Regions from separate parts of the Homo sapiens genome. Here region 1 is linked to region 2. Evidence: fine-mapped expression QTL. A gene starts in region 2. The other region holds a variant in brackets. All regions are shown on one strand. Distances are from middle to middle. Region 1 overlaps GCFC2 (GC-rich sequence DNA-binding factor 2). Region 2 holds the start of GCFC2 (GC-rich sequence DNA-binding factor 2).

The links.
Region 1: its variant is fine-mapped to the expression of GCFC2 in nasal epithelium (TOPMed, PIP 0.93).

The regions. Positions count from the first base shown.
Region 1 is chr2:75,676,343-75,684,689 of GRCh38, forward strand. It overlaps GCFC2 (GC-rich sequence DNA-binding factor 2), which reads right to left. Exons shown (of 17, transcript NM_003203.5): 12 at 3,851-3,972. It overlaps LOC124906025 (a long non-coding RNA gene), which reads left to right. Exons shown (of 2, transcript XR_007087113.1): 1 at 1-3,510. Among named protein-coding and RNA genes, the nearest start is that of GCFC2, 30 kb to the right of the region's middle. The variant T/C (reference allele first, on the strand shown) is at 3,883.
Region 2 is chr2:75,707,078-75,715,424 of GRCh38, forward strand. GCFC2 (GC-rich sequence DNA-binding factor 2) reads right to left here and starts at 3,838. Exons shown (of 17, transcript NM_003203.5): 1 at 3,514-3,838. The coding sequence starts at 3,778. It overlaps LOC105374813 (a long non-coding RNA gene), which reads left to right and starts at 3,862. Exons shown (of 3, transcript XR_940260.2): 1 at 3,862-3,957. RefSeq lists a silencer at 3,370-3,669 and an enhancer at 4,648-5,219.

The sequences.
Region 1 (8,347 bases), 31 kb before region 2:
TAACAAACTTTTCCCTCCCACAGCTTCCACTCCTTGGTCTTGGTTTACTTCTTGGGATCATATAGAATAGAACTAGCCCCACTTCCACATGACAATTTTCTAGATTTTAAGATGAATATCATACTTTTTTTTTTTTTACATCTTCTCTTTCCCATACTATCTTAAGACACTCTCCACTTAATATGCTTACACCGAAAATTAAATGCAATATTCCCAGGAAGGTCTAATCTGTGGGTATTATCACCAAATATGCCATTCTTACTCAAAATAGCACACACATACTAGGAGAAACTCCCATGTACCTGTTTTCTGTTACTCAAGTGACACTGCTGACTCACGCTGGGTTTATTGATTATAATCTGTCTTACTTATGCTGCTTCAAAACTGTGTCTCTCTCATCTTTTACTTATATAGTTGAATTTTTAAACGCATGGGTGGGACATGCATTTATTTTTTCACAATTTCTTGAATCAGTCAATTTTCTACAATCTTTTGAAATCTTCTTGGATTCTAATTCTACCATCCACAAGTCTTACAGAATTCCTAGCTTTTTGTCACTGACACATTTCATTAGTATGTATTTTAACTCCTTATCCAGTTCAATAAAAATATTGAACAGGGCAAAGCTGAGAAGATATCTAATACTAACAGACTCCCCATAGGTAGCCAATGCCCTACTGGCCATTATTTTTTAGGTTTACTTAAGCTTATATTTCCCCATTTAATCCCTAAGAACAATCATAATAACAATTTGCTTCAATAAACAATGTTAAGTATCATTTGTATTTGGGAATCCTATCAATGACAGATTATAGTAATTACTGCTTTTTAAATTTAAGTATTCATAATCTTCCTCTATAATAATTTACTTTAGATTTTTAGTCAGAATCAAAACTATTATTACCAGGCATTAGCTTACAGCATTTCCTTCTAACTTTGAAAACAGAAACTATGTTGTCTGACTCAATTTTCATTCTTGAACCTCATTCTCTTTCATCACTGAAGAAATGGAGTGATCCCACTGGTGAACTGTCTTAGCAACATGGGGCATTATATAGTGTAAGTGATTCTCTACCAAGTGCCATTTTGCCATCCCTAGGGAATACCTGACAATGTGTAGACATTTTTGGTTGTGAAGACCGGGGAGTGCTACTGCCACCTAGTGGGCACAAGCCAGGGATGCTGCTAAGCATACTATAGTGCACAGGACAAACCCTCACAACAAAAAATTATCTGTTCCAAATGCCAATGTAGTGCTGAGACTGAAAACCCTGATGTAATCTATTCTCCTGCTTATGAAAACAACCCATTTTCTACATTCACAGCAGAGCGGTTTCAGAATAAAAACATCCATTATAAAAACTGCTTGAGTTTGCCTGTAATCCCAGCACTTTGGGAGGCCGAGGTGGGCGGATCACAAGGTCAGGAGATCAATACCATCCTGGCTAATACAGTGAAACCCCGTCTCTACTAAAAGCACACAAAATTAGCCAGGCATGGTGGCAGGTGCCTGTAGTCCCAGCTACTCGGGAGGCTGAGGCAGGAGAATTGCTTGAACCTGGGAGGCGGAGGTTGCAGTGAGCCAAGATCACACCACTGCACTCCAGCCTGGGTGACAGAGCAAGACTCCGCCTCAAAAAAAAAAAAAAGACTTCATGAGTGAATCCATAATACTGCTGAAGGGCTTCAGTGATCACAAAGAGCCAGGTCTACCACTTAGTATTCAAGTATTTCAAAAATGACTTAACCCTTCTGGGCCCCAGCTTCATCTGTAAAAATGCAATTAAAATAAATACATTTCACAGGGTTATGAGGATCAAATGAGACAATGTGAAAGTATTTAACAAATGGTAAAGCATAATGATTTACATTTAGGTTATAACTAAACAATACTATATGGAAAGCAAATGCAGGATTATATATCTGCTTCTTTGTAGCTTTTAACTACTAATCTTGGTTCTATGCTGCATAACAGCACAGAATAAATCTATACCTTCTTTGAATACAAACAGCATCTCTCTGTACATCTTTCAAATTAAATATCTCTAATTCCTGCAACAGTTTCCATCTATTTTACTTGAGTTTTTATCCTATTGGAGGTAAGCAGAAAATGCCTCTCTCTCTGTTGCCACATGTTGAAATCCTATTCTTTCCCTCAAGCCACAGTTCAAATGCCACCCCTAAGATAAATTATTTCCTTATCCCCACTGCTGAAGGTAACCTCTCTCTCCTGTCTCTCTCCTGAAGACACAGTACTTTATCTATGCTGCTCAAGGGGAGGCAACATGGTCAGTGAGGCAAACTTGGGCTTTAGAGGCAGACTATCCAAGTTCAAATCCTAGTGCTCATTCATAGTAGCACTGTGACAACTAGTTTTAAAGATTCATTTTCTTCATCTATAAAATGAGGCTGTCATCCTTTTAAGAGACAGGGTTTTGCTGTTGCCCAGGCTGCAGTGTGGTGGCACAATCAAGGCTCAATGCAGCTTCAACTCCTGGGCTCAAGGGGGAGCCCAGCTAATTTTTATTTTTTTGGTAGAGATGGATCTTGCTATGATGCCCAGGCTGGTCTTGAACTCTTGGCCTGAAGAGATCCTCCTGCCTCAGCCTCCCAAAGCACTCAGATATACAGGCGTGATCTGCCATACCTGGCGATCACCCATTTTTTAAATAGGGCTGCTGGGATTAAGATGACAGGTACAAGACCTTACAGAGTGCCTAGTACACAATTGGAATTAAATAAGTGTTTGTTATCTTCCCTACTTCTCCTTTTCACTTCCAGTTTTAAGTTACAGTTTATGTGCATCTTATTTTCTCTGAGATTACATGCTTCTTGAAGGCAGAATTAGGCTGGTATCCCTTTTCTCCCTTTCATTTCTTACAGCTATCCTCCTTTGTAATCACAGTTCCAAGGGCTAAAACTTAATGGTGCTCATAATATGAATATGATATGCCTCCTTGCTTTTCAACCACCTCTGTCATTCTACTCCGGGCATTCTCCAGTCTGTCAATTTCTCCTTAATTTCCTAAAGCTCAACCTAAAATTGGTTTACTCATAAAACTGCATGAATCTACAATCTCATCAACAAACAATAAAAAAAAATGCTACAATGAAAGAGTGAGAAGATTCTCAGCAACATCACTCTAAAAAGTTCCCCAATATGTCTTATGTTCACTGAATTCAATTCTAGATCATTGTAAGATTAAGATCTGTTTTACTGAACTTTGAATCCTTAAAGAGACTACTATTATTTGGTAGACTACAAATAACTAGTTAATACAATAAGTGTCAGTCTAATTTTGAAACCATTGTTCAAGCAAAGCCACAATGCCACTGGATTTTTGCCAAAAGAACAAAGGTAATGAGTATTGTTGTCTTCCTTTAGAAGAAATGAATTTGCACTAATGAATTTATACCGGTTCATCTCTGCAGGGCCAGTGTATATTCATAATCCTGAAAGATGGCTGCCTGGGCCATGAGAACACAAATCAGATCACTGAACAGAGAAAAGTAAGCTAATAGGAATGAAAGTCATAATCTGGGTCCTTACATGTATGTCTATAATTTAAAATGATTACCACTCCTATCACAGTGTTGAGAAGTATCAAGGTATATTCTTTCATCTTATTATTATAAAGATAAAAAATAGCCAAGTCCAGTTTAAAAAATTTTTTTTTCATCTCAGTGCAGTCTGAGAAAAAGTCTAGTTTCTATAAATCAAAAGTAAATATGTTTTCCCCCAAACAGTTTTCTGATAATCACTTCTGCATCTTTTATAAACCAAGATCTGTAAGAAAATTATAATGATTTAGAGATAGATCATGGAGTTCGCAACTCTAGAAATTATTACCTGTCTGCTTTTACTAACTTCATTTTCACAAG[T/C]GGAATGTTCTTCAAGAATCACTCTGCAATGTGTTATTAAACTTGTTGTCTGTGAGGTTGACAAAGGATCCCAAAGGAATTCTACAAAGTCTGAAACAAATATTTCAGTGGTACACAATGTATTTACTAGATTGTTTTGCTTTTCATATACAAATAATCAAGACCTTTAACAAACACTACTTCCCTCCTTATTCAGTTTAAGTTCCATGGCCAATTATTACCATTACATATTTGCATACATCTTCAATTTCCTTGTTCTTCTTGGGCTTTGTTAAACTCCTCTGGCTAAACTACAGCTCTTTATAGTTAAGTTCACCTTGTCACTGAGTCTCTGCCTGCAACCATGCAGATAAAAAGTGGCTGGAAAAACAAACACATTAACTTGATCACTATACAACTTGAGTGAGCCTCTCTCTCTCTCTGTCTCTCAGGTCCATTCACTCTCCCTCTCACCTAGATGATTACTTCATACCTTCTCCCCTCTCCGTTATCTCTCTCTCAGTTGATGGACTTTTTCCTTCTAGATGATTATTTCCTACTTTATTTTTTCTACTCCCTTGCATTCTCTTTCAGCTAATTACTTCCTAATTTGCTAAGAAAATAGAAGCAATCAGAAAAGCAGCACTATGAAGCTCCTACCACAGCATCTACACACCTACCTACATCTGTGCCGATATGCTCTAACTTGTCTCCTATTCCTATGGATGAGGCACCCACACTCCCACCACTTCAGGCAAACTGTTTATTTTGTGGATGAGATCCCAAGCCTTTTGGCTTAGTCTAAGATCCTGTTCCCAGAACACTGTCCTTCCACTTTGGTATTGACATCACTTGTACTAGATTTTTTCCATCACCCTACAAACAACTATTTATCTTGTATTAAAAATAATCCCCCTCAGTGTAAGGAGGCTGCCAAGATGGCCGAATAGGAACAGCTCCAGTCTACAGCTCCCAGCGAGATGGACGTAGAAGGCCGGTGATTTCTGCATTTCCAACTGAGGTACCCAGTTCATCTCATTGGGCCTGGTTGGACAGTGGGTGCAGCCCACAGAGGGTGAGCTGAAGCAAGGTTGGGTGTTGCCTCACCTGGGAAGCACAAGGGGTTGGGGAATTCTCTCCCTTATCTAAGGGATGCCACGAGAAACCGTGCCAGGAGGAACAGTGCACTCCAGCCCAGATACTGTGTTTTTCCCACGGTCTTCGCAACCGGCAGACCAGGAGATTCCCTCCAGTGCCTACCCCACCAGGGCTGTGGGTTTCATGCACAAAACTGGGTGGCTGTTTGGGCAGACATCAAACTAGCTGCAGGCTTTTTTTTTAATTTTTATTTTTTCATACCCCAGTGGCACCTGGAACGCCAGAGAAACAGAACCATTCACCACCCTGGAAAAGGGGCTGAAGACAGGGAGCCAAGTAGTCTGGCTTGGTGGGTCCCACCCCCACGGAGCCCAGCAAGCTAAGATCCACTGACTTGAAATTCTCACTGCCAGCACAGCAGTCTGAGCCCAACCTGAGATGCTTCAGCTTGGTAGGCGGAGGGGTGTCCGCCACTGCTGAGGCTTCAGTAGCCGGTTTATGCCTCACAGTGTAAACAAAGCCACCGGGAAGTTCGACCTGGGCAGAGCCCACCGAAGCTCAGCAAGGCCACTGCGGCCAGACTGCCTCTCTAGACTCCTCTTCTCTGGGCAGAGCATCTCTGAAAAAAGCCAGCAGCCCCAGTCAGGGACTTAGAGATAAAACCCCCATCTTCCATGGACAGAGCACCTGGGGAAAGGGGTGGCTGTGGGCGCAGCTTCAGCAGACTTAAACGTCCTTGCCTGACAGTTCTGAAGACAGCAGTGGTTCTCTCAGCACAGTGTTCGAGCTCTGCTAAGGGACACACTGCCTCCTCAAGTGGGTCCCTGACCCCTGTGTATCCTGTCTGGGAGACACCTCCCAGTAGGGGCCGACAGACACCTCACAGAGGAGAGCTCTGCCTGGCATCTGGCGGATGACCCTCTGAGACGAAGCTTCCAGAGGAAGGAACAAGCAGCAATCTTTGCTGTTCTGCAGCCTCCGCTGGTGATACCCAGGCAAACAGGGTCTGGAGTGGACCTCCAGCAAACTCCAGCAGACCTACAGCTGAGGGGCCTGACTGTTAAAAGCAAAACTAACAAACAGAAAAGAATAGTATCAGCATCAACAAAAAGGATGTACCCTAAGAGACCCCATCTGAAGGTCACCAACATCAAAGACCAAAGGTAGATAAATCCACAAAGATGGGGAGAAACCAGTGCAAAAAGGCTGAAAATTCCAAAAACCAGAATGCCCGTTCTTCAAAGAATCACAACTCATCACCAGCAAGGGAACAAAACCGGATGGAGAATGAGTTTGACGAAGTGACAGAAGTAGGCTTCAGAAGGTGGGTAATAACAAACTCCTCTGAGCTAAAGGAGCATGTTCTAACCCAATGGAAGGAAGCTAAGAACCTTGAAAAAAGGTTAGAGGTATTGCTAACTAAAATAACCAGTTTAGAGAAGAATACAAATGACCTGATGAAGCTGAAAAACACTGCATGAGAATGTCGTGAAGCATACACAGGTATCAATAGCTGAATCGATCAAGTGGAAGAAAGGATATCAGAGACTGAAGATCACCTCAATGAAATAAAGCGAGAAGACAAGTTTAGAGAAAAAAGTGAAAAGAAACAAACAAAGCCTCCAAGAAATATGGGACTATGTGAAAAGACCAAATCTATGTTTGATTGGTGTACCTGAAAGTGATGGGGAGAATGGAACCAAGTTGGAAAACACTCTTCAGGACATTATCCGGAAGAACTTCCCCAACACAGCAAGGCAGGCCAACATTCAAATTCAGGAAATACAGAGAACACCACAAAGATACTCCTCGAGAAGAGCAACCCCAAGACACATAATTGTCAGATTCACCAAGGTTGAAATGAAGGAAAAAAAGTTAAGGGCAGCCAGAAAGAAAGGTTGGGTTACCCACAAATGGAAGCCCATCAGACTAACAGCGGATCTCTCTGCAGAAACCCTACAAGCTACAAGAGACTGGGGGCCAATATTCAACATTCTTAAAGAAATGAATTTTCAATCCAGAATTTCATATCCAGCCAAACTAAGCTTCATAAGCAAAGGAAAAATAAAATCCTTTACAGACAAGCAAATGCTGAGAGATTTTGTCACCACCAGGCCTGCCTTACAAGAGCTCCTGAAGGAAGCGCTAAACATGGAAAGGTACAACTGGTACCAGACGCTGCAAAAACATACCGAATTGTAAAGACCATCAACGCTATGAAGAAACTGCGTCAACTAATGAGCAAAATGACCAGCTAGCATCATAATGACAGGATCAAATTCACACATAACAATATTAACTTTAAAAGTAAATGGGCTAAAAGCCCCAATTAAAAGACACAGACTGGCAAATTGAATAAAGTGTCAAGACCCATCAATGTGCTGTATTCAGGAGACCCATCTCATGTAAAGAGACACACACTGGCTCAAAATAAAGGGATGGAGGAATATTTACCAAGTAAATGGAAAGCAAAAAAAAAAAAAAAAAAAAAGAAAAAAGAAAAAAAAGCATGAGTTGCAGTCCTAGTCTCTGATAAAACAGACTTTAAGCCAGCAAAGATCAAAAGAGACAAAGAAGGGTATTACATAATGGTGAAGGGATCAGTGCAACAGTAAGAGCTAACCATCCTAAATAAATACGCACCCAATACAGCAGCACTCAGATCAGATTCATAAAGCAAGTTCTTAGAGACCTACAAAGAGACTTAGACTCCCACACAATAATAGTGGGAGCCTTTAACATCCCACTGTCGATAACAGACAGATCAATGAAACAGAAAATTAACAAAGATATCCAGGAATTGAACTCAGCTCTGGACCAAGCAGACCTAATAGACATCTATAGAACTCTCCACCCCAAATCGACAGAATATACATTTTTCTTAGCACCACATCACACTTATTCTAAAACTGACCACATAATTGGAAGTAAAACACTCCTCAGCAAATGCAAAAGAATGGAAATCATAACAAACAGTCTCTCAGACCACAGTACAATCAAATTAGAACTCAAGATTAAGAAACTCACTCAAAACCGCACAACTATATGGAAACTTAACAGCCTGCTCCTGAATGACTACTGGGTAAATAAAGAAATGGAGGCAGAAGTAAAGATGTTCTTTGAAACCATGAGAACAAACACACAACGTACCAGAATCCCTGGGACACATTTAAAGCAGTGTGTAGAGGGAAATTTATAGCACTAAATGCCCACAACAGAAAGCAGGAAAGATCTAAAATCGACATCCTAACATCACAATTAAAAGAGAGGATGTGGAGAAATAGAACACTTTTACACTGTTGGTGGGACTGTAAACTAGTTCAACCATTGTGGAAGACAGTGTGGCGACTGCTCAAGGATCTAGAACTAGAAATACCATTTAACCCAG
Region 2 (8,347 bases):
CTGATGAGTTCACTAAGGATTGAGAGGATAAAGAACACCAACTCGGGCAGTGGAGAAGCAGGGCTGTCAACCTAATCCCAGGCAACTTCAGAACTTAGGCTCTCTTTATAGTATGCCATATTTCAACGGCTGGTGGCGAGAAATATTGTAACGAGCACTTTGGTCAATATTAAACCATGGGTCCATCTTTTCAATGCATGATTTGGGAAGGTAAATAGTCTGTTAAATTCAATTAATCTGTTAAACAAAGATAACACCAAGATAAAACCCACAGGGGTGTTGTGAAAATTGAATGAACAAAATAAAGGAATTCTTGACATTATTGACAAGAAAGGATTTCTTAATCCACAATAAATTTGCAATCTTTATGAGTAACCTTAAAACATAAGATTACATACTACTCATTAATTTTAATTTTCTACCTTAGTTAGAAGACCTACATACAGTTCAAAAAAGGCTGGAGTAAAATCAAAATTTAAAACACTAAAAAAAATATAGCTGCAGCTCACATCTTTCTTAGATATTGTCATTTATGACAACCCATACCTGTTTCCAAAGTGGATTAACACCAAAGCAGTGGGTCTTAAAGCATGGTTTATCAATCCCTGGAGGTCCTTGAGACTCTTTCAGAGAGTCTGTGAAATTAAAACTACTTTCATCACAATAATAACATGTTATTTGTTCTTTTTACCATGTTGATATTTATATAATGAAGTAAAGGCAGTGATGGGTAAAACTGCTAGGCTCTTGGCATGAATGAATCAATTTGTAGTAGCAGTTATGGTATTTTTCCTTACCTCACATGGCAGAAAAAAGCCAGTTGCTCTTCATGAACTAATTAAAAAATTGTTATTTTATTAAATTTTGACCCTTGAGTACACATGTTTAATATTCTTTGTGACAAAATCAAAGTATTCATAAGGCACTTTTGCTGCATCTTGAAATGCAATGGCTGCCTTAAGGAAAAGCATTTGTGTGACTGAGTTGCAAGCTGAACTAGACGTTGTTTTTAAGAAGCATCACCATTTTACTTGAAAGAATGACTAACAAACCGATTATTCAGACATGGCTATCTGACAAACATTTTCTCAAAACATGAGCCCGGTTGTGCCTATCAATAAAATGAGAGATTTCAAGTGAAAATTGAGATTTTGGAAAACTTATATTCTCTACTGTGAACCTAACAGCTTTCCAGTACTTACAGACTGATTAATCAGTGGTAATACTATGATTTTTTTGGTATTGTACAATAAAATGCTCCAACATTTGCAAGATCTGCAAACTCAGCTAATGAATACCTTCCAAATAATGCAAGATGTTACCAATCGTTCATGAGTAAAAGATCCAAAGTACAAAACAGAACAGAGTTTTAAGGTAAGAGCACCCCAAATTTAATCATATGGTTTAAGAATCCATTTGGCAACTTTTTTTTTTTTTTTTTTTTTTTTTTTTGAGATAAAGTCTCACTCTGTCACCCAGGCTAGAGTGTAGTGGCACAATCTCAGCTCACTGCAACCTCTGCCTCCCGGGTTCAAGTGATTCTCTGCCTCAGCCTCCTGAGTAGCTGGGATTACAGGCACCCACCACCATGCCTGGCTAATTTTTGTATTTTTAGTAGAGATGGGGTTTCACCATGTTGGCCAGGCTGGGCTCGAACTCCTGATCTCTTGATACACCTGCCTCGGCCTCCTAAAGTGCTGGGATTACAGGTGTGAGCCACTGTGCCCGGCCCGCAACTAACTTTTAAGAAGGGTTAGTTTATTACTTGTTGAGCTGTGTTATATTAAAGCACAACACCCTCAATGATCTAAAAATGCTATTAAGTACTCGTCTTAATCATGTATCTGTCAGAGGCTGTATTTTCTTCAAATACTTCAACCAAAACAAAATAGCACAAGAGATTAAAAGCAGAAACACCTATGACAATTCATCTGTCTTCTATTAATATTTTGCCAGACATTAAAGAGATCTGTAAATTGAAAACAATGCTACTCTTCCTTTTTTGGGGTAATACTTTTCACAAAAATCTTACTTATCCTTACATGTAATAGATTTTTTGTAAGTGAATTAATAAATTTTATTTTTAGTGTGATAAATATTGATAGGTATAACCTACTGAAACAAAAGCTCTTTGGAATCCTTAATCATTTCTAAGAGTCTAAAAGAGGTCCAATTCCCAAAGAGTTTGAGAACCACTATTCTAGAAGGCAAGAGAAAAGGAACTCCTGACTTCAACTTTCATCTACAAAGTTTAACCAGAAAACAAATATAAAAGGTCATGAAAACTTTAGACAAATAGAAGGTCACAAGAAAGACCAAGAAATCACGAAGATCATAAACCTGGAGGACATTATGTTACATGAAATAAGACAGGCACAGAGAGACAAACACCACATGATCTCACATATGTAATCTAAAAAAGTGGAAATCAGAAATCACAGAAGCAGAGAGTCGAGTAGTGGTTAGAAGGGACTGAGTGAGGTTGAGGGTAGTTGGGAAGATACTGGTCAAAGGGCACACATTTTAATTAGACAAGAGGAATTCTATTCTACAACACGGTGACTAAAATTAATAACAATGCATTGCATACTTGAAAATTAGTAAGAGTAGATAGTAAGTGTTCTCACCACAAAAAAAAGTAAGTACCTAAGGTAAAGCAAATGTTAATTAGCTCCATTTAGTCACTGTAGACACATTTCAAACATCATGTTGTACACTATAAGTATATACATTTTTTACTTCTCAATAAATTAATAAAAATCACTTTAATGACAATAAAAAATAATAGGAAGATTTTAGCTCTCAAGACTAACCAAAAACCGTATTCCTCATTAAGCTACAATTCCAACTCAGAGCAGCACATTTTATTTAAACAACTTTATGCTGCCTTACACCTGTATTTAAGAACTCAAAGGTACTTCAAAATGACGACACTATATCTAACACCATTACTGGTACCATCTACAGTGTCATGAATCTCTATCATGCTTCTTTGTGTTGTATATATTACTATTAGTTTTTGCAAATAACTGGTGAAAAAAGAAAATAAACAAAGGGGAATGTCCCAAAACCTAGATTCCTGTACTACTCTGGCTAAATGTTTTCAAGAAAGATAAGTTGGTCAAGTGTCTAAAAGGTACATATAACTTCTGCCCACTTAATAGTATTATAAATTATTGAACTTTGTTGTGACAGTTTAGGTTCTTCATAAACTTTGATAACTGTGTTAGTTATAACTGATGGAGTCAACTGATGGTGAAAACGAAGAGCCTCCCAACTGTACACGATTGTTTTATTTCCCCCAAGGAGTCCAAAAGGCAGATGCAGATAGCGGGCAAGTGCTCGAGCTATTTTCTCGCTCACTACCTTCTGGATAAGTCTTTCTGGATAAGACTCAGCATGGCTTGTGGTCGGCAGCAAGTTATAGAACCCCCAGAGAAGGATCCAGAGACCCCGCGGCCCCTTCCCGCCCTGTGCCGTCACCTCCCCGCTTCCCCGCGTCTCCCTGGACACCTGAGCCTTCGTCCGCGCGGGGAGCCGCTTTGGTGGCACGCCGGGAGCTCGCCCAGACCCGGCCCCGGCCACGAGGGCCCCGAACCCGGTGGGGCAGTCCCGCCACCTGCGCGCGGCCTCCTCCAGAGGGCGGCTCTTCCTCCGCAGAACCCGGGACCGGAAGTTCCCTCGGCGCCCCAGGCTCAGCAGGCGACTCCTCGGCGCCATCGCTGTCGCTGGAATCAGCCGCGCGCTGCCGAAAAGTCCTTTTCGGCCTGTGAGCCATGGCCGAGGCCCGAGCGCCCGGCGCCCTAGAACCCGCTGAACCGCAAGCCGCAGCTTCAGTGCCCGCCCCCTAGGGCGCGCTCCCGCCGCGCCTGGCCGCCGAGTGCGCGCGCCCGTCCCGCCTGCCTTCTGCTCACCGCTACTCTGTCTGCGCCTGCGTGCTTTGGCTCCCTGGATCTGGTAGGCCGAGTTCTGTTCTGGGGCCTGAGTTTGCAAAGCATTCCCTTTGCCAGGTTAGGTTGCGTGGACTGACACCTTAGAGATTTTCACGGCCTATCCGGTCTGAGTCCCACGGAGAGCAGAACTCACGTGCTGTCCTTGTGCAAACCCCATCCAGAAATCAAGCGTTATGCTTTCCGTCCTGGACTGGAGCCAGATCCGTTGTCTTTTACTTTCTGGAGAGAGTGCCCCCTCCAACCAAGATTTAAAACAAACGAAACCCCAGCAGTGTGAGGCTCGGGGTAGGAGGAGATGCCTTTGAGAACAAAACCATAAAGTCTGTACATAAACAATGCATACAGACTAGCAAAAATCAAATGACTTCCCCCAGGCAGCAGGGCTTCAAGAGAGCCTGGTTAAATGTTTTCACCCTTAAAGAAACTATCTAAAAACAAAAAGCTATTGTCTGACGCAAATTTGTTCTATATTCATCAAGCTCTGTCTACTACTGTATCTGTATGGTAGAAATACTATATAATGTTGAGCTACTGCACACCTGTTATCAACTCCATGTTTAGTGGCGTCATATTGAGAGGTGACAGCGGGCCAGCTGGAGTTCCGGGTGGGCATGGGCTTGGCGGGCCTGCACTCGGAGCAGCCGGCCGGCCCTGCCAGCCCCGGGCAGTGAGGGACTTGGCACCCGGGCCAGCGGCTACAGAGGGTGTACTGGGTCCCCTAGCAGTGCCGGCCCACCGGCGCTGTGCTCGATTTCTCGCCGGGCCTTAGCTGCCTTCCCGCGGTGCAGGGCTCGGGACCTGCAGCCCGCCATGCCTGAGCCTCCCATCCACTCCATGGGCTCCTGTGCTGCCCGAGCATCCCCGACGAGCACCACCCCCTGCTCCACGGCGCCCAGTCCCATCGACCACCCAAGGGCTGAGGAGTACGAGCGCACGGCGCCGGACTGGCAGGCAGCTCCACCTGCAGCCCCGGTGCGGGATCCACTAGGTGAAGCCAGTTGGGCTCCTGAGTCTGGTGGGGACATAGAGAGTCTTTATGTCTAGCTCAGGGATTGTAAATACACCAATCAGCACTCTGTATCTGGCTCAAGGTTTGTAAACACACCAATCAGCACCCTGTGTTTAGCTCAAGGTTTATGAGTGCACCAATCGACACTCTGTATCTAGCTGCTCTGGTGGGGCCTTGGAGAACCTTTATGTCTAGCTCAGGGATTGTAAAAACACCAATCGGCACTCTGTATCTAGCTCAAGGTTTGTAAACCCACCAATCAGCACCCTGTGTTTAGCTCAAGGTTTGTGAGTGCACCAATAGACATTCTATCTAGCTGCTCTGGTGAGGCCTTGGAGAACCTGTGTGTGGAAACTCTGTATCTAACTAATCTGATGGGGATGTGGAGAACTTTTGTATCTAGCTCAGGGATTGTAAACGCACCAATCACGGCCCTGTCAAAACAGGCCGCTGGGCTCTACCAATCAGCAGGATGTGGGTGGGGCCAGATAAGAGAATAAAAGCAGGCTGCCCCAGCCAGCAGTGGCAACCCGCTCCGGTCCCCTTCCACAGTGTGGAAGCTTTGTTCTTTCGCTCTTTGCAATAAATCTTGCTACTGCTGACTCTTTGGGTCCACGTGGCTTTTATGAGCTGTAACACTCACCGTGAAGATCTGCAGCTTCATTCCTGAGCCCAGCGAGACCACAAACCCACCAGAAGGAAGAAACTCCAAACACATCTGAACATCAGAAGGGGCAGACCCCAGACGCGCCACCTTAAGAGCTGTAACGCTCACCGCGAGGGTCCGCAGCTTCATTCTTGAAATCAGTGAGACCAAGAACCCACCAATTCCGGACACAATATTGGCACCTTGAAATCAGCCATAAAGGGACTACTTATACCATATAAATTGGAAGACCTTAGAAGTCCAGGTGTTTCTCCCAGATATCCAGTCATTAAACATTTACCATTGTATCACTGACTATATGTCACCAAAGGAATCGAGAAGAGGCAAAGTTTCTCTGATTGACCTAGCCCCGGAATTTTTTTTTCTTGGCTTTGTCTTTTTTTCTTGGCTTTTCTCAATAAACTGAAACTCCTTGATGTAAATTTGGGAAATTATATGATACAGTATTATCAGTTATTCACAAGTTATTAATGTCTTATTATAAAGAGAGGCTTCTCTTTTTAAATCCAGGTAAAATTAGAGAACTACTTGTTTTTTTGTGTGTTTCTTTTGGAAAATTGGCAAATGGTGTGAAAAAGATATTTCTGGAGAATAGAGATACTTGTGGCATCTGAAAGAACAGCTTCCTATCATGGACCAAGTGCTCCTTGTAGTTAGAATAAACTTTAAAGATTGGAGATGGAGAAGTGGGTTCCGTTCGGTCCAGTGCTTTTCAGATGCCATCTTTCCATGCAGAATTCCCAAGTTCTGCCATGGATACTGCTCTGTACTCCCTTAGCAGAGGAGGACATCTTTCCAAATTACACTATAAAGTAGTTAATGCTAAACCAAACAGGAGACTATAATTTTTAGTTTAGTTAATTTTATGGACAGAGTCTCGCTCTGCCACCCAGTGCGATGGTGCAAATACAGCTCACTTCAGCCTTGACCTACTGGGCTTAGTGATCCTCCCACCTTAGCCTCCTGAGGATCTGGGACTACACGCGCATACCCCAATGCCCAGCTAAGACTAGCATTTTGAAACAGTGAGGAGAATGAGGAAGATGATCGTGATTGTAATTGGAGAGAAATTCAGTGTTCTGTTATGCACTCTTAAGGAAACATATTAATATATCGTACAATTCAATCAGTGTTTATTATACACCTACTAGCACAGGCACCATGCTAAGCCCTAGACTAATGCTTATCAAATCTAATGTTCTTCAAAGCACATGGAAATAGTGTGGACATATAGATACTGATTGAGCTGCTATGTGTAGGAACCAAGAGTCTTCATTTCTAGCAAGCTCCCAGGTGAAGGCGAGGATACTTGTCTGAGGATCACTCTAAATAGCAAGGTCCTAGAGCAGATACTAAGTATTAATCACCCTTAAGAAGGCTGGGCGCAGTGGCTCACGCCAGTAATCCCAGCACTTTGGGAGGCCGAGGTGGGCAGATCACGAGGTCAGGAGTTCAAGACCAGCATGACCAACATGGTGAAACCCCATCTCTACTAAAAATACAAAAATTAGCCGGGCGTGGTGGTGCATGCCTGTAATCCCAGCTACTTGGGAGGCTGAAGCAGAAGAATCACTTGAACCCAGGAGGCGGAGGTTGCAGTGAGCCGAGACCGCACCACTGTACTCCAGCCTGGTGACAGAGTGAGACTCCATCTCCAAAAAAAAAAAAGAAGTCTTAAAAAATAGTCTAAATAACTTAATCATTGATGAACTTCATATCAGATTGTAACAGCATGTAAATGTTAGGTACCTCAAAATTTAGAAACCTAAATAGCCCCCCAAAAGGAAAACTAATAAGAATCTATTCAAAGTGAGTAAGGTTATTTAAGTGTAGAAGTTGTTCACCATAAGGGGATATCTGTCTGCACCTCCTCAAAAAGGGTTCTCTGCCAGCTTCCAAAGTCATTTTAGGTGTTTGTTGCAATTGGAAAGGGGGTCAGCAGGACAGAATTCACTCCCAGTGTTGCTTAAAAGGCAGCAGTTTATTTAAGGACAATCTAAGTGTGATGTTGGTGTTCTAGAAGGCTGTTCTTTCCCTTCAAAAGTCACTAACTCACAAACGATGTTAAACCAAAATGTGAAAACGCTAGGCAGAGTTTACTGTTCTCGGCTGAGTTCAGAGCCATCTGCTAATGTGGACTCATTGTTTACTTTCCCATTTTAAAAGACACTGCCTCCCCAGACAGAGCCCTTCTTTTACTCATTTTGATATCCTATACCTAGTTTAGTGTTTAGTGCACAACTGACATGAACACAATGAACTAAATGGTTGGATGAGGCAATTCTGAAACATCTGTGTTCACTCACGAAAATAAAACTGGAAAACAAGTCACTCTAACTTGTTAAATGCAAACATGTTAAGAGATAGGTGATATATGATGGAGATAGAAAAAACTCTGCTATTTAAAACAGAAATCAAACATTTGTTCTAAGGGAAAGAAGTGAGAAAAATTATTTTCTCTGGGTGTTGCCTTGGTGGGAGAGGATGAAATAAAGATAACTTATTTAATAAAGGGGGAGGAATCCTGAGTTTTCTCCTCTGTCCCCAGGGAAAGCAGAGCGATGACTCTGAGGGATAGTTGCCAGATTTAGAAAAAATATAGAATACCTGGTAAAACTTGAAATTCAGATAAAACAGGAGTAGCTTTTTAGTATAAATAGGTCCTATATAATATTTGGGACATACATGCATGGTAGATTTTGGAACTCTAGGGTAAAG